5 separate regions of the Homo sapiens genome follow, and all the other regions are linked to region 1. The links come from fine-mapping of genetic effects on gene expression. A gene starts in region 1. Each other region holds a variant in brackets. All regions are shown on one strand. Distances are between the middles of the regions.

Region 1 (4,498 bases):
GAAGTCCTAAACTTGAAGTACCAGCAGGGCTGCATTCCTTCTGGAGGCTCTAGGGGAGAATCCAATTCTTTGCCTTTTTTAGCTTCCAGAGGCCACCTGCATTTCTTGGCTCATGGCCCCTTTGTATTCAAGGCCAGTAGCACGGTATCTTCACACCTCTCTCTCTGACCTCTGCTTCTGCTGTCACACCTCCTTCTCTGACTCTGACTCTCTCCTGCTTCCCTCTTTCCCTTATGAGGACTCATGTCATTATACTGGGCCCACCTGGACCATCCAGGATAATCTCCCTACAGGAGCATAGGCTCTGCAAGATCTAAGTCCCTTTTGCCATGTCAGGTAATATATTTAGAGGTTGTGGGGATTGGGAGGTGGACATCTCAAGGGGGCACTATTCTGTCTACTGTAGTCGTAGAAATGAAAAGGGACTTGCCCAAGAGTACCCACAGAGCTGACTGAAAAGAAACAACTATGGGTAGGCTCACACCACTGGCAGAAGCACCCCTTTTCCTCCTCCTTGGCATGAAGCTAAAGCCCAGCCATTCTCCAAGGTCCATTTCAGGCTGCCCCTGCCCAGAAGCCACAGCTGCCCTCCTAGGCCTGCAGAGGTCATCCTCTTGACTGTGTCTGTGTCACTCATTGCCACTTGGCACACATTTGGTCAGCAGTCGTGAAGGTCTTCCATTGTTCTCTGCCCAGTCTTGATCCTGGAAGGCAAGGATCACACCCTAGAACTTTTTTGTGCCCACTGCACAGAGTAGGGTCTCAATACGTGTACGGTTCATGATGTTCCTAGCAGATTCTCCAAACTGACTCACTCAGCCCCTGGAACACTAAAAACTGCATTTCCCAGACTCCTTTGCAGCGTGGGCTAGGTTCCACCAAGCCAGACACAGTGAAAGTGAGTGGGTGGCCACAGGTGGAGGGCACAGTGGTGGATATGTTTTGTTCTTTTGGGGGCAGCTATGCTGGGGGCTGCACTAAGTGATGGGGCAGTGGTCCCAATGGAGTAGTAAAATTAAGTGTTTCTCGTGGCTGCATGGCTCCTGGCTGTGTAGGACTTAGACCCGTCATCTGTAAGCTCCTTCACCTCATGTAAACAAAACCCCTCTAGCTGGAGTGGTGTCTATTGTCTGCGACTAAGAACCCTTATATAAGGTATACTACTCCCCAACCCCATTAGTGGAAATCCCAAAGGGTAGGAACTGTATTTTATTTCACTTGTAAACAGCTCCCCTAGTAAGCATGTCAACAAAATATACACAATTCATTGAACCCCATAACATTTCAACGAATTCCTCATCCTTTCTGTGAATCAAGAGCCTGAAAAGAAATGGTGAAATAATATGATCCTCTCTTCTTTGAAAGCTCAAAGCTATGTTGGACCAGAAGTAAAGTGTTCTCGTTTCTATTTAATAACTTGAAAGGTTCCGAGGGGCCATTGAGGAAACTCCTCCCTTTTAATATCAATGTGTATTTATTGCAAAAATAATGTAGCATCGAGTGGTATTTTATAGCTTATCCAAAAACCTCCTGGGTTTAACGCATTGTGATAGTCCCGTTTTCTTCTCAGCCCAGGTCCTATGCATCCTCATCTATGCAGGGCTGTTATCTGCATATAATTTTTTTTTTTTTTAAGACAAAGTCTTGCTCTGTCGCCCCGGCTGGAGTGCAGTGGTGCAATCTCGGCTCACTGCAACCTCCGCCTCCCAGGTTCAAGCGGTTCTTCCGCCTCAGCCTACCGAGTAGCTGGGACTACAGGCATGCGCCACCACACCTAGGTGATTTTTGTATTTTTAGTAGAGACAGGGGTTTCACCATGTTGACCAGGCTGGTCTCGAACTCCTGATCTCAAGCGATCCACCCGCCTCAGCCTCCCAAAGTGCTGGGATTACAGGCATAAGCCACTACGCCCGGCCTCAATTTTGTATTGTACTTTTTCTTTCTTTCTTTAATAGAGACAGGGTCTCACTATGTTGACTAGGTTGGTCTAGAACTCCTGGGCACAAGCTGTCCGCCCGCTTCTGCCTCCCAAAGTGCTGGGATTGCAGGCGTGAACCACCGCCCCTGGCTACAGGTGCCTTCTTGTCTCAATTTGCCTTTGACCTTTCTTAGGGACTTGTTTTCTGCTTTTCCTGCTCTTTGTCCGCTGATCTCCTGGGAAGAAAGCTTCCGAAAAGGACACCGTTTCAGGGGCGAGTGACGCCGGGGTGCCCAGGCCGCGCCCCAGTTCCGGGTTTGCACCCGGTCTTCTTGCCCTGCCCCGCCCGCGGGACTACAGTTCCCAGGCGCCCCTGCGCGGCCGCGGCGCCGGCGCCGGCGTCGGTTGGGACGCGGAGCTGAGGAGCAGGGCCGGGCGCCATGGCACCGTGGGGCAAGCGGCTGGCTGGCGTGCGCGGGGTGCTGCTTGACATCTCGGGCGTGCTGTACGACAGCGGCGCGGGCGGCGGCACGGCCATCGCCGGCTCGGTGGAGGCGGTGGCCAGGTGAGTGGGCCCCGGGACGCCGCTGGGGCCGCCGAGCTCTAAGCTCAGCCCGCTCCCTGGCTGCCGGCAGGGGGCGGGGCGGCAGGGGGCGGGGCCGCGGCGCAGGCCCCGCCTCGGTCTCCCCCTTCCCACCCCGGTGCGCGCACAGTGCTGACCACGGACGACCCCACTGTTGCCCCCGGCGAGCACCAGGACTCTGCTGGTTAGGGCTGCGCGGTCAGACAGGGCGGCCACCTGGTACGTGCGCTGCTGAGCGCTTGACCTGCGGCCAGTCTGAATTGAGATGTGCTGTAAGCGTAAAATGCATACCGATTAACAAGACTTAGCCGGGCGCGGTGGCTCGCATCTGTGATTCTAGCACTTGCAGAGGCAGAGGAGGGAGGATCGCTTGAGGCTAGGGGGTTGGAGACCACCCTGGGCAACATAGGGAGACCCCGTCTCTGCCAAAAATTTAAAAATTAGCCGGGTGTGGTGGTGCACGCCTGTAGGCCCAGCCACTTGGGAGGCTGAGGCAGGAGGATCGCTTGAGCCCAGGAGGTCAAGGCTACAGTGAGCTGTGATCACCCCACTGTACTCTAGCCTGGACTGCAGAGCGAGACGGTCTCATAAACAAAACCCCCAAAAACACCAGACTTCGTGAGTAAAATGTAAAATAAAAACATGAAAATGGGTTATGTTGTTTGCCTGTTGAAATGATATACTTTTTGTTTGTTTTGTTTTGTTCTTTTCAGATGGAGTCTTGCTCTGTCGCCCAGGCTGGAGTGCAATGGCACGATCTCGGCTCACTGCAACCTCCGCCTCCCGGGTGCAAGTGATTCTCCCCCTTCAGGCTCCCGAGTAGCTGGGATTACAGGCACCCGCCATCATGCCCAGTTACTTTTTTTATTTGTTTTGTTTGAGACGGAGTTTTGCTCTTGTTGCCCAGGCTGGAATGCAGTGGTGCAATCTCTGCTGACTGCAACCGCCGCCTCCCAGGTTCAAGCGATTCTCCTGCCTCAGCCTCCTGAATAGCTGGAATTACAGGCATGTGCCACCACACCCGGCTAATTTTTTGTATTTTTAGTAGAGACGGGGTTTCACCATGTTGGGCAGGCTGGTCTCTAACTCCTGACCTCAGGTGATCCACCTGCCTCGGCCTCCCAAAGTGCTGGGATTATAGGCGTGAGCCACATGCCCAGTTGATAATATTTTTAATATACTGTTTTAGGTTAAAATATTTGAAATTAAGTATACCTTTTTTTTTTAACTTTTGTTAATGTGCTTATTAGAAAACTTTAAATTACCTTTGTGGCTCTCATTATAATTCTGTTGGACTGCATTGGTTTAGGTGAGAGGAGGAGGAAGAGAACATCGTGCCAGCCAAGACTTGACCATGAGGACACTTTTTTTTTTTTGAGACAGTTTTGCTCTTGTTGCCCAGGCCGGAGTGCAGTGGCGCCATCTGGGCTCACTGCAACCTCTGCCTCCCAGGTTCAAGTGATTCTCCTGCCTCAGCCTCCCAAGTATCTGGGATTACAGGCACCCGCCACCACGCCCAGCTAATTTTTGTATTTTTGGTAGACATGGGGTTTCACCATACTGGCTAGGCTGGTCTCGAACTCCTGACCTCAACTGATCCACCTGCCTGGGCCTTCTAAAGTGCTGGGATTACAGGCGTGAGCCACCGCACCTGGCTGACACTTTTCTTTGTATAATTTTTTTTTTTGAGACAAGGTCTCATTATGTTGCCAGGGTGGTCTTGAACTCCTTGGCTCAGGCAGTCCTCCTGCCTTGGTCTCCCAAAGTGCTAGGATTACAGGCATGAGCCACCACACCTGGCCTAATTTTTTTTTCTTTTTTTTTTTTTTTTTTTGAGACAAGGTCTTACTTTGCCACCCAGGCTGGAGTGCAGTGGTTCAATCTCACTGCAACCTCTACCTCAAGGGCTCAAGAGATCCTCCCACCTCAGCCTCCCAAGTAGCTGGAACTACAGGCACGTGCCACCATGCCCAGCTAATTTTTTTGTGTTTTTTGTA
Region 2 (4,498 bases), 93 kb after region 1:
GCAGCCATGGTGCACCAGGCACTCTGCTAAGCACTTTATGTACATTCTTAAATTACCGGATCCCCATTACGGAAACGGAGTCTTAGGTTGAAAAACTACTTGACCAAGGTCATCCCAGCTGTAAGTGGCAGAGCAGGCCCTGAATCCAGGCAACCCAGGCTGATCACCACCCTGCCACCACCCACCCCTCTCTCACATACAGGCTCTAGGCCTCCTGTCTATACTGGAATCCCCCACAGCAGATCCACATGGAGCTGTCTAAAGAAGCACCTGCCCCTCCCCCAGACAAGGCAAGAAAGCCATCTCTACCTGGAGGGAGAGCAGTGAGGGGCATCATTAATGGGCTGTTGGGTGTCCTGATTTCTTTGAGAGAAGACGAGCTGAGCAGGCACAGCTCTTAATCCTCCAGCCACTGCCCCCCAGGCTGGGGCCTGCCAGCCCCCGCCCCTGTAGTCATTTCTAAATCGGGTCTAGATGGACTGGACGCGTGGCTGCCAGAGACCATTTGAACCCCCTACCTCCAAATTCCCCAAGGTCCCCGCCTGCAAAGGACCAGCCCCAGCATGAGGCCCTGAAAGTGGCAACATTTCAATAGCCTATCCTGGACAATCAGGACGATCCCTTTACTAATTTATATGCTATACGTTTGGGGTTTAATTGGAGCGTAATTGTAATCCATATGCTGTTAAGGTAATTACACTTATAAACCTAATATAATCCATAGATCAATGGGTTTGGAGCTAATTAAGGCAACCGTAATTAACATTTACCAAAAACCTTGCAATTACTGGAATATCCTTTAAGCTGGCCTTCCGAGCTGATAATGAGCGCCGCTCAGCGCTCCGCGGCCTCCTAGCGTGTCTTTATTCTGCACAAGGGGGCCTTCTGGGGACCTCGATGTTGGGAGGGCAGTCAGTGCCTGCTTTTAGCACCCAGGGACTCTGATCAGGGACCCAGCTGATGAGTGGCAGCACCATGGGAAGCCAGGTCCCTGTGACTTGGCCATCCCCAGAACACGGCTGATTTTCTGGCTCAATAGACTCAGCCTGACAAAGGGGAACTTGGAGAAAGAGAACAAGAAATCCATATGCTGAGCTGGGACAGAACCCAAGTGGGGTTCTCATGTGGGGAGCATATGGGGCTTTCCTCCTGCCCACCCCCTGCACCTGCAGCCAGGATGCACCTGAGCTCGGACTGCCCTGAAACCCCAGGAAAATCCCAACAGCGGCACCATAGGGCCAGGATTACAGCCATTCTTTTTTTTTTTTTTTTTTTTTTTTTTTGAGACGGAGTCTCGCTCTGTCGCCCAGGCTGGAGTGCCGTGGCACAATCTCAGCTCACTGCAAGCTCCGCCTCCCGGGTTCACGCCATTCTCCTGCCTCAGCCTCCCGAGTAGCTGGGACTACAGGTGCCCGCCACCACGCCTGGCTAATTTTTTGTATTTTTTAGTAGAGACAGGGTTTCACCGTGTTAGCCAGGATGGTCTCGATCTCCTGACCTTGTGATCCGCCCGCCTCGGCCTCCCAAAGTGCCGGGATTACAGGCGTGAGCCACCACGCCCGGCCTACAGCCATTCTTGAATGTTGTATGACTCCCGGTGATATTGTCACCTTGGGAGCTGCACAGAGACCTCCCCCGGGCCAGGCCCCTCCTCTGTCTGCAGAAGGAGGTAAGGGGCCCACCACATCTGTCTTACCACAGGCTAAGCTGTTGGCATCTGTTCTTTTCCTGCTCCAGGAGGGACAGAGCCCCCCTGTTGTCCTTGCGGCACCATGCTCTGGGAACTGGGCGCTCCTGTGGACAGCTCCATGTGAGTCTTCTTCGAGAGACTCCACTGCAGATAGAAGAAGGCCTCGAGCCTGTAGTTGCGGGGCGGTGGTCAGCCTGGGCTGCCTGGATTCAGCTCCTGCTCTGACATTTACAGCTGGGACGACCTGGGCCAGGTAGAGGTTTTTCAACCTAAGACTCAGTTTATTATGTATTTATTCATTTATTCATTTTATTTATTTATTGACAGGGTCTTGCTCTGTCACCTAGGCTGGAGTGCAGTGGTGCAATCATGGCTCACTGCAGCCTTGACCTTCTGGACTCAAGTGATCCTCCCACCTCCGCCTCCTGGGTAGGATGCATGCCTGAGGTGGGACTACTGGCATGCACCACCACACCGGCTAGTTTTTAAAATTCTTGCAGAGACAGGGTCTCCCTGTGTGGCCCAGGCTGGTCTTGAACTGGGC[T/C]CAAGTGATCCTCCTGCCTTGGCCTTCCAAAATACTGGGATTACAGGCATGAGCCACTACACCCGGCCTGGACTCAGTTTCTATAATGGGATATGGCAGTTTAATAATGTGCATGCAGTGCTTAGCCTAGTGCCCGGTGCAGAGCCACTGCTTCATTAATGCTGCTGCTGCTGTCCTTGTCATCTCTATCATTGACAGCCCTAGACGAGCTGAAGGGGTGGGCCCAGGTGGGAGGGGCCAGGTGGGCGGGGCCAGGTGGGCTGTCTGCACCTCGCTTACTCCTGGGTGGGCTGTTAGCTTGGCGGGTCCCAGGGCTCACTTTTGCCCCATCATCATTTCTGTACACTTTTTCCATCTCTGGGCCTTAGGGCCTTTCCAAAGACTTTGCAACTCTGGCAGATATTTCTAGACAGAATTAGGTTCTTTAACGAAGGAATGAGGCAAATGTGGACAGGAGATTGTTCATAATTGCGGCTGTCATTTATTGAGCACCTGCTGTGTGCTCTTAGCCTCTGGGCTAAACACTGCACAGACATAATTCACTGATTGCCAACAGCAGCTTTATGCGGCTGGCATTTTAGTCTCACTTTAGGGTGAGGAAACTGAGGCTCAGAGAGGCTGAATCACTGGTTTGAGTACGTCCAGCGAGAGGGCAGCTGGGCCAGGATTTGAAGCCAGCCATTCTCAACACCACTGTGCTCTCTGCCTCCCGAGTGGAGGCCCTGACCCCTTTGCTCTCTTCCTGGGTGGGCCAGTGGGGATGGGTGAGGGGTGAGTGTGTCAATGTTTCCCTCAGCCCAGTAGTGGAGAACAGGCAGGGTGGGCGAACTCCTGGCTGGACCACAGCCACAGGCCTGCAGGAGGCACCCTTGCCAGGGCGAGTGAGCACTGTAGTCTGGGAGACCCTAGAGTGAGATGGGGGCTCTACAAGGCACAGCTCCTCCCTGGAGGAAGGGAGGAAGGGAGGGTCCCTGCCTTACAGGGCCTGGCCCTCCCCACTTGTCCAAAGCCCGGCTGGGTCCTGGTGTGTCAGCGCTTTGCAGTACACCCTGTGCTACCCACCCAACCTGTGTCCCCGTCTGATCTCCCTGGACCCTCCCACAGCCTGGGAAGGGTCCCCCAGCTGTGAGGTCAGCATGGGGGACCTTGCTCTGCAGAGGGCACCTGTAGGGCTGGCCTTATTGGAGTCCCTCCTTTCTAGGCCCACAGTCCTGCGCTGCCTGGTGTGCGGGGCCTGAATGTCATTGTTTCATATATTTTATCTGATTTTCTAGTTGCTTTAAGGTACTTTGTCTATCTTGACTGTTAGGCTCTTTATTTTTCAAAAAAAAATTCAATATAATAGTTTGCATTTTTTCTTATTGATAATAAAACCACTGACATTATTGAGCTCTTGTTCTGGGCTCAGTTCTGCCCCGAGCTGTTTGTACATGTTACCTTGCTGAACCTGCACCCAAGTCCTCAGGCCATATTCCCCCTTACAGATGAATGAAGTCACTGGCCCGAGGTCACACAGCTGGGACGTAGTGCAACCAGGCTGGGCCCTAGCTGGTTGACCCCAGTGCCCACTATTTATTTGGTGCTTACATGCACTGGCTCATTTTGTCTCTACAGCCTTGCAAAGGCCACAGTTATGAGATGGCAGAGGTGGTATTCAAATTCAGGCCCCTAAACTTGTGTCTGTGTTCCCTCTTGAAAACTTCAGTAAACTGAAGAAGTGAAAGGCAGAGGGTAAACCACCGACCAGCCCACCATCCAGAGGTGACGGTGACCTCTGATGCCGCTGGGTGTCCACCTTCCAAACTGTGTGCACAAATGTGTCCTCTGTGTTCTAGTCCACAGGTGAGGTCAGGAGCACAGGCTGTTTTGGGACATCTCTTCCCAGTGCCCAGTTCCAGAACACCCTTCCAAACCACCGTGCATTCTCCGGGGCCATCGTTTTAATGGCTGCACCCTGCTCCCGCGTGTGGACGCATCCTAAACAGTCCCTTAGTATTATGGTTAGATGCTCCATGTGTTTCCAATTCTTCATTATTGTAAACCCAACTGCATTGCTCATCCTTGTAGCATAGCTTTGCACTTATTTTGGATTTTTGCTTTAAGATAACTTCTCACACATGGAATTGCTGGGTCAAAGGGTATGCAAAATTCTAAGGTGTTTGGTACTTCTGCAGAATTCTCCCTCCAGACATCAAGTTGCTCTCCCATCTGCACTGTGGATAATTCTGCAACTCTCGACACCCTCACCAACAAATAACACCGAG
Region 3 (4,498 bases), 160 kb after region 1:
CGTCCCACCCAAACCCTAACCAGAGAGAACACGGCACGTTGTGCCAGACGGAGGACGGATGCCAGCGAGGGTCCATGTCCTCACTGCCGACAAGGCTGGGAACTGGGCCAAGTGAAGCAGAGGCCTCCACGTCAGATGTGAGCGCCACCGGCCCAGGTGACTGCAGTTCTTCCCTCCTTCCGTTCGGCTTGAGCCCTCCAGAGGATCGGAAAGGCTGAGGCCTGACCTGGTGCCGCTGTCCTGGGTGGGTCTGTCCTGCTGGTCGGTTCCTGCCCCTCTCGGGGAGGTTGGCTGGCAGCTGGCAGGTGGAAAGCCTCCTGTGTTCACCTCAGGGCAGAGGTGGGGACACAGGGCGGGACGGGCGAGTGTGGTGCCCCTCTGGGGTGGGTGCTCTTGGGTCCGCCTCCCGTGCCAGAGTGCGTGTCAACAGTTCCAGCTGCCCCTCAGAACTGTCCTGGTTTAGGAGGTGAACACACGGGGCAGCCTACATTCTACGTGGTTTTTTTAACATTATAAAAGCAGCATGTGTTATTACAGGAAATTTAACAGAAGTATATAAAAAGAAACCAGAAGTCACCCGGGAGTCTGAGCACTGTGCTCTCTGGGGCCTTTCCTTTCGGCCTTCTTCCTTCCAGCCCTTTCCCTGCACACTGGACAGAGTGGCTGAGTCTCTCTCGTAAGCCCACAGGGTTATGATCGCTGTGCAGGTAAGGAGACTACACGTGTGCCCCATGTCAGAAGCACCTGTGCCTGGCCTGGGCACTGCACTGGGGGTGAGGCCTGGGGCCAGGCCCCACGTGGGGGCAGAACGGAGCTATCCATCCAGCCAGGGACCTCATCTAGGGATTGGGGGCAGCAAGGGGCTGGTAAGGGCCAGAGGTAATTCCAGGGCCACTCTGTGCCCTACCCTCAGGTGGGGCACAAGGGTGGGGGCACTGCGCTGGGTAGAAGCCCCCCGCCAGCCCCTGGCCCACCAGTCATCTGTCAGATACGGAGGCAGGGGTGAGGGGAGGGTGTGCTGGGGAAGTCAATGCATCCAGCCTCGAATCAGTGAGTCCCTAGGCCTTGGGTAAGGCAGGGCTGCAGGGATGGCAGTGAGGACAAGGGGCTCACCTCCCCCCAGCAGCCCCACTTCACATGTTTGTTTCTTGAGTTCAGTGCTCATAGACTTAAAAAAAAAAAATCTTGCTAAAAGCAAAAACCAAAAGAAAAGCGGGGGCTACAGAGCCTCATTCCCAGAGGGGCTGCTCTGGCCCTAACAAGCATTCTAGGCCAGACTTCCATGGGCAGATTGTGTGGGCAAGTGTTGAGTTATGGAAATCAAGCAAACCTCTCCACGCCTGTCCTCCAGGCCGCAAACACGCCCTTCTCCTGAGTCCGGGTAAGCAGAGGGCCATGCACGGGAGACAGTGGGCCACGCCGGGCTGGGCTTCGTGCTTCTGGGGCCCCCGCAACTCACTCACGCAGCAGAAGTCTGCACTGTGCTGCCTGCAGCGGGGGCAGAAACCCGGAGCCAGTGAGCCTGTCTGTGCCACCTCAGCTACCCTGGTGGGTGGGTGGTGGGGGCCATCCCAGGCCCCTCAGGGCTGCAGGCCAGGCTGGGCCCATCTCCGCACGCTGCTGTGTGGCCTCACCTCCCAGCGCTGTCGAAGGCTGAGCTGCTGTGCTCGGAAGGGCAGACTCCTCCATGGCTTCTAACTCAAGTGACACAAGGAGTGTCTCCCCACTGCTGTCCTGGGGCTCCTGGCCCTAGAAGGGCTCCCCATGATGCAGCTGTGGCCATGGGCAGCCTTCCCCCGTCCCCCGGCGTCTCCACAGCTCTGTGATGTCTGCTAGCCCCATTTTATCGATTCAGACCCCGAGGCTTGGAGGGGACAGAAGGGTCCAGTCTAGGTCTCTCTGCGCCCAGAGCTAATGCTCCTGTGAGCAGGGGGGACCTGCCAGTTCACCACACCCAACAGAAACCACACAGCTGGCACCAGGCACTTGGGTATTGAACCAGGAAGCTTTATTTACACAGTACAAGTAACAAGCAAATTCCTGAGAGACTAGAGCGGCTGGAGTGCAAGCCACAGCCTGTGCGGGGAGGCCAGGCTGCAGGGGCGGGCAGACCCTGGGCCCCGGGTCTACGCTTTCTGGTCGCCACACTTCCTGAAGCACGGCAACACCCACAACATCCAGCTCAGGGAAGCCCCTGCAGCCCCAGAAACAGCCTATGTGCTATCTGTCGCCCCAGCCCCCAGGACAGCTTCCCCACACACTGAAAACACAAATCATTTGCCAAAAAGACTATGCTAGAAGGTCAGACTATCCTATCTAGGCTACAAGATCTCCACTTCGGTCTGCCATTAAAAAAAAAAAAAATCTTTCTCTTCTTTTCTCTTTAAAGAGGCATGACAGAGGGGTTTGACCAACAGCGTGGACATGGCAAGGTGTGGCATCATTGCCAGTGTGGGGCCAGAGGGTGCCCGAGCCC[C/T]GGTGCGCGGCCAGCCTGCTGCATCCCTGCCGGCTGACGTCTGGAGTGACCGTCATTCCAGTGACCACCCCCATAGCCACAGACGGCACGTCAGTGGAAACGGGGGTGCAGCAGGCATGACACCAAGGCAGAGCCCGCAGCAGGGGGCCCGGGGTTCCACAGCTAGGGAAGCTTGCTCAGACAGGCAGCACACCCAGGGCACGGCCACTCACGCCCCCGCACCAGGAGACCCATTTGGAAGTTAGTTAGGGTTTGTTTTGTTTTCTTTTTAATGTGGACTTCCCCTTTATTTAAATTTTCTTTCAGTGTACAAATTCACAAAACTGGCTACAAAAATTTGGTTGAAAAGTAAGGCTTTCTGAGAATGAAAATCTGTACGTCTGGTCAGAACAAGCTCCCCACGGGCCCAGGTGCACGTCTGCCCGTGCAAATCCGGCCTCCACCGCGAGTAAGGCAAGAGGGTATGGCAACGAAAATGGCAAGGCTGTGGCCCCAGCCCCTGGGCCCCACGGGTGGACGGCAGCCCCTGGCAGTTTGGTGGCTTTGGAATGAGTGGGGTGCATGTGGCACTAAGCCCCCCCCACCGCCCCGGCTTTCCTGCAGGCTTAGCCCGCGCTTTAGGACCCCATGAGCAGGCAGATGGCCTGGCACGGCTTGCTTCTGGCTCTGCCCTTCCTCAGTCTCCCCTCAGAGGCAGGGTTTGTGGGCAAGGCTGTGACAAAAGTAAGGCTCCTGCCACTGCCCCCAGCTGGGGCCATCATGCTGGTGGGGGTGAGCTGTCTGCCTGCTGCCCATGGGGACACCAATGTGGGGGGCACCTCCTAGGCGAACCTCCCTCCCAGAGGACTGAGATCAGAAGTCCTGGGGCCAGCAGGGTGGAGTGCAGGAACAGGCTGCTCCGGGCAGTGTGGCAGCTTGGATGATGGGGTGGCACCTTATAGATAGGGTCTACTCCCTCCAGTCAAAACACAAACATGAAACCAGCTAAAGGCCATTTCTTTCTCTAAGCAGAAGGGATAGCCACCATTTTCTCCCCTGACTGCTGCGTGGTGGGCACAGGACAGGCAGGCGGGGTCTGAGGAGGCTGGGTCATTTCTCCCTAAGCGCCCTGGGGCTGGGCTTGCTGGTCGATGGGACCAGCTTGCGGGGAGGTGGGGAGGTGGCTGTGACTCAGCCAGCTCCACAGCTTGTCCCTTCCTGCCACCAGGCCTGAATGGGGAGGTGGCAGGCAAGGTTTGAGGGCAGGTCACCCACACCCCAGTCCCACGACATATACCTGTCACCATGTGCCTCCCACCCCAGCCCTAAGCAAAGGTAGCTGGGGGCTGCTGCATGCCTCAGCCTCAGCTGGCACCGTCCACCTCCCTCACTGCCTCTGCCTTCCACAGGAAGGCCTGCTATAGAGGCTGTGTGCCCTCGGCCACACCGGGCATGTGGTGCCAGGACCCCCCACGCCCAGTGGTACTCCGGGGGCAAGACATGGCCATGTGCTCTCCACATTCACCCAACAACTGCCCTGGCCGCCTCCACATTTGCTCTAAGAAGACATGGTCTCCATGACCCCCAGGCAGGGACAGGCCAAGATGTCTCTGTCTGCTCAGAGCCACCAGCTCTTGGGTTCGGCTGTCCGGGATCACAAGTAGACATGCCTCCGGCAGGAGCTACAGCAACCAGAGGTGAGCTGGTTCCCCGGCTCTGGGACCTGCCCAGTGCCCGGCATACCCCATGTGTCAGCCACCTGAGCTAGCAACACCATCTCTCAGGGCTGTGGGGCTGGGGGCTTTCTGCCAGCTCCTTAAAGCTGATTTTTAAGAAGTGCCACCCACATATTGGGAACTTGAACCACCATCCTTTTGATGTAGTAAAAAAATAAGATTTAAACAACGTTTCCCAAAAAGCATCTTTCTTGAGGAGAAAGAAGGTGAGAAGCATCTGGACTCAACCTGCAGAAGCGAGGCGTTCACTCGTCCATGAAGACGAGCAAAAGCAAAGTGACTACAAAAGTGCTTTGAACGCGCGTGT
Region 4 (4,498 bases), 130 kb after region 1:
TTGCTGGGCTGTCTCAGGGGTGGCAGTGGAGCTCCCGTGCCTCCCACAGATGAGGACGTGGAGGCCCTGGCCGAGTGCTGAATGCAGGTTGGGGGACAGGGCTGCCGGCCTCTGTAAGGATGGGGACCCCAGACCCACCCGGTGGAGCTGGGGCTGAAGGCCGTGATAAACACAGCCTCACCCTGGCATTGCCCACCTCCACTGGCCACCAGCTTTGACGGACAGCCCCACTGCCACTGCCCCTCTCCAGGCAGGCCACATTCACAGGTGTTCTGTACAGAGAGCAGAAGTTTGAGAAAACGTGACCCACTGAACAGACACTTGCTGAGGCCCGGGGGCTTCATGTGTCAGGCCCAGAGGTGGCCACAGGCACAACACGCGTCCCTCAGCCTTGCCACCTCTGCTGCCCTCCAAGGTGCCCTGGGTCCAGCTGGCCAGAAGCACTGCTTTCTGGAGCAGCCACTTATGCTTTTACTTTTTTCTCTTCTTTTTTTTTTTAAGACTGAGTCTTGCTCTGTTGCCCAGGCTGGAGTGCAGTGGCACAATCTTGGCTCACTGCATTCTCCAGTTCAAGTGATTCTCCTGCCTCAGCCTCCTGAGTAGCTGAGATTACAGGCATCTGCCACCATGCCCGGCTAATTTTTGTATTTTTAGTAGAGATGGAATTTCGCCATGTTGACCAGACTAGTCTTGAACTCCTGACCCCAAGTGATCCGCCCGCCCAAAGTGCTGGGATTACAGGCGTGAGCCACAGTGCCCGGCCCAGCTTTTTCATTTTGAAATCAATACAAGTTTTTACAGATGTCTGCAAAAAATATCCATATTGATGGATCCTGGCTCCTCAGAATCTGAGGTTTTTACAAATGTCTGCAAAAAATATCCATATTGATGGATCCTGGCTCCTCAGAATCTGAGGTGACAGCAGCTTGCAGAGGACACTGCTCCCCCAACACTGCCTTCCAAGGGAGACATGCCCTACCCCAAGGCCTCCCTTGTCCCCTCCCTCCTCTGACAGTCAGGTCCAGGGGGTCCTGGAGAGGGCACTGGCCCACCCTCCACACATGTTGCACAGTGCCCTGGGAATGAGGAAGGAAGGGCAAAGGTTAGGGAAAACCAGACGTCAGTTTCTTGACCAGCCACAGCCGGTGCAGCGCGGTTATTTATAGCCCTGGTGGAGCGCCCATAAATCAAGGCTTTCCCCAGCAGCGCGGCTGTGAGGGCTCCGAGATGATCTCATGGTGCCCCTCCCTTGAACCATCCCAGAGAAAGGAGGCCTGTCACCTTCAAGGACCAATGCTTCTGCCGGGACTCAAGCAGAACCTGTTCCTGCTGCTGCAAGGTTTACAGGCAGCCTTGGGGACAGTCCGTGCAGAAATGTCAGGAGCCTTTTCCTGCATAAGGCATCTCAGAGCTTATAGCACCTCCTTGGCGGTGGCCGTGCTCGCAGCCTGATACATGGGACCTCTGTCTCACTTGCAGTGTGCACCGCAGGTCCTAATTCCTTATCTGTTCCAACCACAAAAGCTTCCACTGCTGGATGGAGCCCTGTTATCATTCAGGCTTCTGAGCCACCTGGAAGGCAAAGGCCTCTCTGTGAAAATGAAAACTTGGCTTTAAAAAGCTGGCATGGGCTCAGCCATGGAGTTGCTTAGATGTAGTTCACAATCTCGCAGACCCACGGCAGGATTCCACCCAGGAGAAGGTCCTGGAGGTGGCCATGGGGCTCAGCAGAATGAGCCGGGAGGAGCAGGACTGTTGACACGAGAGCAGGGGTCAGGCTCAGTGCACAGGTCCCAGTGTGCAGAGCTCACCCGGCCCCAGCTTTCATCACCCATCTGAGATCGGCCTCCTTCACTCCTGTTCTCTGGGACTTCCTTGTGTGTTAGAGACTCGAGCAAGACCCTTTCTTGTCTATCCCCGGACGGACCCGCCTTTCCCGCATCTCTGGGGGTGAGGTCGGCTCTCGTTCAGGCCTGCAGGGTCCCTGGTGCCGCAGCCCCTCTGGTTGGAAGGCCCCCTGCGTGCAGCCCCGTCCTCCAGCCCCGCTCGGCTCTGAATGAGTTCATTATGTCTCAGCGCGCCCTGGCCGCCAGGCTGGCAGTTCTTCGGGCTGGCGGGGCTCGGGAGCTGTCAGCCTGCCAAATCCAGTTGTTTGACTTCATGTTTCAAGGCCAAATCCTTTCAGGAAAGTTCTCTCCATCCCACCACTCCACCGCCCCCCGCCCTTAGAAAAATAAATGCGTGATTGACTGGCTTTGCAGGTTTTTTATCCATCGTTCTTTCCAAAGAATAGTGTGAACAGCTCATTCGATTCGTTCATGTG[A/G]CGTCCTCCCTCTCCCAATCCCTGTCTCTCTCTCTCCTTCCACAGCCACATGAAATTGAAGTGGGAGAACATGGTGTGTGAGCATTATTGGGGGTGGGGTGCGGAGCAGGCACTGGCTTTGGTTGAGGTCTGCAAAGGAAAGCACCCCCACTGCCAGGCTGCTCAGGAGTGGCTCCCACCCTCGACTGCGGGGAAGTGCTGGAACCCTCCGCACGAGGGCAACCTTTCTTGGGCTCTGAAGGCGCCTCTCATCCTCTGAGCCAAGAAGACTTCTGACCCAGAATTCTGAGTTGAGTTCCGACGCAGGCGTGGGCGATGGTGAGCAACTCCAGGCTACCCCGAGAAAGCCGCTGTGTGACCCCATTAGGGGACTTGGCTCTCCTGCCAAGCCCCCACCCAGCACCTGTCCCTTGTGTCATGACTGGACTTGTTACTTCTAGCCCAGGAGCTCCAGGTGAAGGGGACTGTGTTGGTCCTGTCTGCCCAGGACTCTCCCCACCCGCACAGTGTACCTGTCCCACAGTGGCACCAACAAGGCTCAGCTGAGCCCTTGCCAGAGGAGACACGGTGGGCACCAGCCCCAGCGCTGCCACCTGCCTGCCTCCTCTGCCACCGAGGGAAGCCATGTCGCCTTCCTGAGCCTGCTTCTCTGTCCACAAAACAAAGACTAGATAATTAGAGTGCACACTTGGAGGGACAGGATGGCTTCGTATCCATCTGGCTGTGCCCTGTAACTCAAGGGATGGGACTGTGTCATTGGTAAACACTGCAACAGGCCTCCTTTCCAGGAAACAGGATCCCTGTCTCAGACAGAAGCAGTCTCGCCCATCCTGGGGCCTGAGAGCATCATTCCTTTGTGAGACTCAAATGTGAGGAATTCCTGTTTCCTCAAGTCTGTGTGGGGAGTGCAGAGCAGCCCTCTGAGGGGGTAGCGTGTGCAGGAAATAAGCCGGGGGGAAGGGGGCACCGCGGGTGGGTGTTAACTGCTGCTTCGGGGTCCAGTCCTGTTAATGAAAGCAGGGGTGAGGCAAGCGGGGAAGACTCTCTGTACCTGATCAGTGGCATGTGTGTGGCTCCAGCCGGCATGGCCTGAGCTGCCGGTGAGGGAGAGGCCTCAGGGAGAAAAGACAAAAGCTGGGGTGCCCCTGAAGGTGGGGCAGAGCTGGGGCAGTCAGGGGCTCTTCCACAGGTGCAGGCCTGGTGCTGGAGGACACAGTCCATACCACCTCCAACCCCCACCACCTCCCCTGCCATGGACAGTGTGGGGCAGGCTCCTGAGGATGAGGCAGCCTGACCCCTACCCCTGGGCTGTCCCCCCGACTCCTGGTTTCTCTGGAAGCCTGGGGTTCCAGGCCATGCAGGTAGAGAACAACAGGTTTAGGACAAAGTCATTGTGGACACTGAGGCCCAGAAAAGGGACTTGCCCAAGGCCACACAGCAGGTGGCCAGCACTGTGTCCGTGTCTCTGTTATTCCTTCCTCTGCTTGCTTTGGGTTTATTTTGTGCTCCTTTTCTACTTCCTTAAGATGGGAGCTTCAGTGATCAATTTCAGATCTTTCCTCTCTTCTAACAAGCATTTGGTACTATGAATTTCCCTCTGAATCCTGCTTCAGCTGCATCCCAACTTCTGATACCAGGTAGGAGTAATTGTTCTAAGCTCCGCAGCTGACTACAGAGAGCGGCCACATTTGAGAAACATTCTCATCTCTCTGATCTTGGGTCTCTGACAATGGAGCTAGCAACACTTCCTGGTTTTAAGGGCTCTGAGGAGCAAATTAGACTGTCTGGTGGTGAAGAACTTTGTTTAGGAACAATTTAAGATGCCAACAGGTTCATCTGCTCTCCTGCCTCCTTCTCCCCACCTTGTAACACACCCTAGACAAGTCAGCACTCAAGTTTATATGGACAAATAAGCAAGTAAAATTAGTTAGGAAATCAAATATTGGGGTTGGGGAACAATAAGAGAAGGCAAGCCCTATGGGATGGTAAACTGCAGTATAAAGCCCCATTTGCTGGCACAGTGTGGTCTGGCCTGTGACTAGGTGAGGGACAGTGCGGGGTGGCCTGCCTGCATATGCCAGGTTCTGTGTATCACATCTCTCACCAGGAAGGCAAAACCTGGCAGATGGCACCCGGGCCTGATGGCTCCTCAACCCTCTCAGCACCCCAAAGAGG
Region 5 (4,498 bases), 80 kb after region 1:
GAGACCGCCTCTACTAAAAATACAAAAATTAGCCAGGCGTGGTGGCTCACGCCTGTAATCTCAGCTACTCGGGTGGCTGAGGCAGGAGAATCACTTGAACCTGGGAAGTAGAGGTTGCAGTGAGCTGAGATCGTGCCACTGCACTCTAGCCTGGGCGACAGAGCAAAACCCTGTCTCAAAAAAAAAAAAAAAAATTAGTCAGGCATGGTGGCACACACCTGTAGTCCCAGCTACTCAGGAGGCTGAGGTGGGAGGATTGTTTGAGCCCAGAAGGTTGAGGCTGCATTGAGCTGAGATTGCACCACTGCACTCCAGCCTGGGCGACAGAGCGAGACCCTGTCTCAAAAAAATAAAATAGACATAATAAGAGTACCTACCACCTACGGCTGGGGAGACCAGAATGAGATATCCTGCCAAAAGCACTCACCGCACTTCCTGGCACACAGCAAGGGTTCAGCAGTTACCCGCTTCTGCTCATTTTCTTGGTGTTCTCATCAGTATGATTATTTAGGGAAACTTGGGTCCCCAGATAACCGTGGGGAGGGGAGGGTTTACCTGCAGGTGCCCTGGCCCAGCCGTTCATGCAGCGCCGTGCTGTTTCTGTGTCTGTGCGCTTCGGTGGAGATGCTGTGGGTGGGTGGGCAGGTGTGCCTTGTGCTGTGGCCTCCCGAGACAAGGAGGGCTCCCACCTAAGCAGGGTCCTGCAGCCCAGGCACATAGCCCTGCCCTGGCCCTCCAGGTCCACACGGCTGTGGGTTCCCACCAGGGGGCGGCAGGGACTTGCGGCCGGGGACCCAGCCTGGTTTCTCCCGCTTTGCTTCGTGGCCAGGCTAGGGCCAGGGGGGCTGCGCAGGATGGGGCCTTTTCACCACTGCCTGGAGCCGCTCGCCCACCAACCCCACTGACGGCTCTCAGTTTCCCTTTCCCCGAGCGCCCTTCACCCTGAGGCACAGCACAGCCTCGTGCTCCTGGCCCCACTGGCCTGCTCCCTTAAGCTGAGTTTTGCCTTTGCAGTTTGAGTGACATTTTTGCTGGGGATCCGGGGCTGCTCGGGGTGGCCTCGCACACCCCTGCACTTTGGCTGCCTGGAACGTGGCTTGGGGTTCACGGTGCTCCATGGTTTGACTCACAGGCAGGGTTCCAGCAGCAGCAGAGAGAAAGAGCATCTTCTCCAGCCGGCCCTACAGAGGCCCCGGGACCCCAAAGGCTGCACTGAGGTGGCCACCAAAACCAGGGGGCAGAGTCCTCCTAAGTTCTGGCCCTAGATCTAGGCTCCAGATCTCCCGGGAGTTGGATCCAGAGGAACCTGGGCTCACTTCTTTAGCAGGTTCTGGACACACGATGCCTTTAGGGGCTCAAGAAAATGTTTAATTTATTTTAAAATTAGAAGGAAAATATCTCTGGAACATTTAGGGCCAAAGAAAATGTTTTAATGTTTTTTCTCACTTTAGAAATAATAATTCAAAAATCCATTAAATTATTTAACAGCTTTTTTAATGGAGGAAGGGGCCCCCCAAATCACAAAGTGGCCCTGGGCCCTGGGATGGCCGGAGGAGAGCCTGCCATACCCACGCAGTGTGCCTGAGTCCTGGAGTGCGATGTATTCTGAGCCACCCAGAATGGTGAGTCACCAAGAGGCAGCTTGGAGGTGGGCCGCTGCCCCTGCACACTGTGCTTGGGGGACACAGCCGACACGACCAGCCTGCAGTACCAGGATAGACAATTTGGGCTGGAGCCAAACTTGATCAGAGGGAGGCTGACTTTATCGAGGGCTGCTTTGTGGCGGGCGTTCATTGTGGAAAGAGCCCAGGAAGGAGCTCTCTGCCTTGCAAGAACATTGCCTGTGGCTCAAAATGGCCACATGGGATGCAGTTCCTGAGGTGGCAGAAGAGCCAGCCTCTGCTAGCCCCAGACCTAACGGAGTTGCGGCTCATGGCCACCCTGAGGAATTCCACCTGGGCGTTTGGTGTCCCTAGCATATCTCGAATGGCAGGCTGAGGCTCGAAAGTCTCATGCCTGTCTGCAGGACCCCCGCGTGAGCCTGGGACCACCCGTGGGGACAGTGTGTGTCTAGGCAAATGCCTTGGGCACTCGAGGGGGCACTGAGGCCCTGGAGGGCTTCTGTGGGTGGGAGTTCCCATGACGTCATCCCTCAGTACAAGCTACGAGGGCTTCTTAGAACACGCTGGACACTGGGGAGGGCTCTAATGGTATTTGCACAAATTTGCAATGTTGGAGACCAGAGTGGAGTGGGCTGGGCGGGCCAGGCCCCGGCCCAGATGGGGTGACCTTTCCTTCACCCCTACTTCCCCACTGCAAGGGTGCTGCCTCCCCAGCTCCTACCTGGGGAGATGCTGACATCTGGTCATTCGCAGAGTGCCCTGTGCCCACATGCTGTCCCTGTCCAGACATGAAACGGACAGCAGGAGGGGGCTTTGAGGGGTCTCTCCTGAGACACCTCTC[C/G]AGCTGAGGCTCCTGGAGTTGGAAGCCCCTGCAGACTCGGTGGCTGCCTCACCAAAGGCTCCATCTGCATTTGCCCCCATGACCTTCCCACTGTGCCTGGGACCGCAGTTAGAGCTGACCAGCACCTGGGGCAGTCTGGGGTCTGGGGCTGGCGTTCGGGCCAGCATGGAACACAGATGCCTTCAGTGGCTCTGGTGGGCACGGGGCTTGCACAGATCGGACTGTGACCCCAGGCTGTGGGACTCAGCCACCAAGCGCCTTCACTTATTTACTGACCTTGAAGTTATCCAGCACTTATGTGTTTACAGATACCTGCACAACAGCCAGAGAGGTACGAATACATCTCCACCTACAGGTGAGGGCACAGAGAGGTTAGGACCCACCTGAGGGGATGCAGCCAGCAGGTGGGACTTGGGCCCTGGCAGTCTGTTTCCAGCCTGTGTGCTCAGGTCCAGGGTCTCCCTGGGACTGGAGAGGGCGCTGGGGGAATGGAGCCGCCTCCTGCATCAGAGCTTCTCCTGCTCCAGTTCAGCCTGCAGCTCTCCTGCATCCCCAGGTGGGGACCAGAGAGAGGGGCAGGCTGGTACCAGCCTGGGGGAGGGGGCAGTTACCAGAAGACCTTGGTCCCCATCCCAGCCCTGTGCACCCTGGGGCCCAGCCAGGCTGGAGGCCCATTTTTCCCAGAAGCCCACCTCTCTGCCTCCTTCCAGGGGCTCACCCCGCCCTGCTGCCTCTTCTTGATCGCCTCCTTGCCCCTACTCTCCCCTCTGCCCTCTCGCCTCCCCTCACGTTCATGGGGTTTTGTGGACGCGCCTGCCTGCCTTTCATCAGTGGTGTCCAGCCGTCTCCCTGACCGAGGCTGAGGGTCCTGCACATCTAGGCCCCGTCACGGTCGTTCTCCCCGGTCCCTGCCTGCCCATGGCTCTTGCCACAGTGGGGATGCAGCAGCTCTGGGTTGAGTGTCTGTCGTTGCCCCTGCACTGCGTGTGCCCTGTGAGTGGGGGCTGCTGTGCCACACCTCACTGCCACCCATGCCCATCTCAGGGTGTGGGCCCAGCGGGTCCTCAGGCTGTACCTGTCAGGGGGCTGGATACCTGGACAGGGCCTTGTCCGAGGGTTGACTGGGAGAGAAAATGCCCCCGTTCCAGCTCGGGCAGTACAAGCCTTCATCCTCCCAGACTCCACCTCCCTGGCTGCTCCTTCCTGTATGGCCCCCACAGGGGTTGGCAGGGCGCACTCCCCAGAGGGACAGGAGTTTGTGGCCAACCTGAGGGTAGACACTGCCTGTCCTCCAGACCCCTAGACACCCCCGGTCGGCCCAGGTGCGGGGTCTGCCCGCATCCCACAGCCATCTTTCCAGCGAGGACAGTGCAGGCGCAGGTGGCTGTACCGTGGCTGCGGTGATGTGCTGACTGGGAACGGCAGAGGTGCCCTGGGAAGGCGGAGGTCTGGGAGCCCCACAAGGGCTGAGCCTTGGGGCCTCAAAACAGGGAGTCTTCTCTGGGCTCAGGGCCTTTCTGGAGATGGGACTTCTAGGTTGCCAGGGCCACTAGCCGTGAGGAGTTCAGCTGCCCATGGTGGCGGCGGCTGGGCTGTATCTTGCACTTCTCAGCTGTGTGGAGGGGTCCGTGGGGCCTGTCTGGGCCCAGCACAGCAGCGCACAGAAAAGCCACTTTATATATTTGGGATTCTATTAATCCTTCTAGTTTGTACATTTTTTATGGCACCTTCAATTTTTTTCTTTTAAAAATTAATATATTTTTTTTTCTGATAATATAAGAAATGCATGCCTTCTTTGGAAAATACAGAAAATCACAAAGAAAATAATCCACAATCCCACCTTCCAAAAGGAACCACAGTTAGCATTTTGTTCAGCCTGTTTTTTAAAAAACAAACAAACAAAAAATGCATACTAAAAGCAACGATTTATAAACTGTGGTTGTAGAGTTAAGCTCATACCCAGAGTTGCCGGCATCTCACCAGTTCCTCTCCTGGGACAGTGATTGTGCCTTCCCAGAGCTGCCGCACCCTGGCC

Which allele goes with the higher level. Alleles are on the strand shown, and positions count from the first base shown. SD is a standard deviation of normalised expression in the study named. Not every link is listed here.
For the expression in B cells of the gene that starts at base 2,319 in region 1, allele T in region 2 goes with a lower level than allele C (moderate effect, 0.73 SD a copy in Fairfax 2012).
With allele A in place of G in region 4, the expression in prefrontal cortex of the gene that starts at base 2,319 in region 1 is higher (small effect, 0.35 SD a copy in ROSMAP).

Evidence for each region. PIP is the estimated chance that this variant, and not a neighbour inherited with it, causes the effect.
Region 2: its variant is the best candidate, but not a certain one, in a credible set for the expression of LHPP in B cells (Fairfax 2012, PIP 0.52).
Region 3: its variant is the best candidate, but not a certain one, in a credible set for the expression of LHPP in whole blood (INTERVAL, PIP 0.57).
Region 4: its variant is the best candidate, but not a certain one, in a credible set for the expression of LHPP in prefrontal cortex (ROSMAP, PIP 0.71).
Region 5: its variant is the best candidate, but not a certain one, in a credible set for the expression of LHPP in anterior cingulate cortex (GTEx, PIP 0.89).

Annotation. Positions count from the first base shown.
Region 1 is chr10:124,459,505-124,464,002 of GRCh38, forward strand. LHPP (phospholysine phosphohistidine inorganic pyrophosphate phosphatase) reads left to right here and starts at 2,319. Exons shown (of 7, transcript NM_022126.4): 1 at 2,319-2,483. The coding sequence starts at 2,359. RefSeq lists a silencer at 2,199-2,658 and an enhancer at 4,175-4,498.
Region 2 is chr10:124,552,194-124,556,691 of GRCh38, forward strand. All of the region lies in intron 6 of LHPP (phospholysine phosphohistidine inorganic pyrophosphate phosphatase), which reads left to right. Among named protein-coding and RNA genes, the nearest start is that of LHPP, 93 kb to the left of the region's middle. The variant T/C (reference allele first, on the strand shown) is at 2,235.
Region 3 is chr10:124,617,306-124,621,803 of GRCh38, forward strand. It overlaps FAM53B (family with sequence similarity 53 member B), which reads right to left. Exons shown (of 5, transcript NM_014661.4): 5 at 1,987-4,498. Among named protein-coding and RNA genes, the nearest start is that of FAM53B-AS1, 84 kb to the right of the region's middle. RefSeq lists enhancers at 2,904-3,033, 4,386-4,498. The variant C/T (reference allele first, on the strand shown) is at 2,477.
Region 4 is chr10:124,587,812-124,592,309 of GRCh38, forward strand. The region is part of intron 6 of LHPP (phospholysine phosphohistidine inorganic pyrophosphate phosphatase); the gene reads left to right. Among named protein-coding and RNA genes, the nearest start is that of FAM53B-AS1, 110 kb to the right of the region's middle. The variant A/G (reference allele first, on the strand shown) is at 2,324.
Region 5 is chr10:124,539,559-124,544,056 of GRCh38, forward strand. The region is part of intron 6 of LHPP (phospholysine phosphohistidine inorganic pyrophosphate phosphatase); the gene reads left to right. Among named protein-coding and RNA genes, the nearest start is that of LHPP, 80 kb to the left of the region's middle. RefSeq lists an enhancer at 279-779. The variant C/G (reference allele first, on the strand shown) is at 2,464.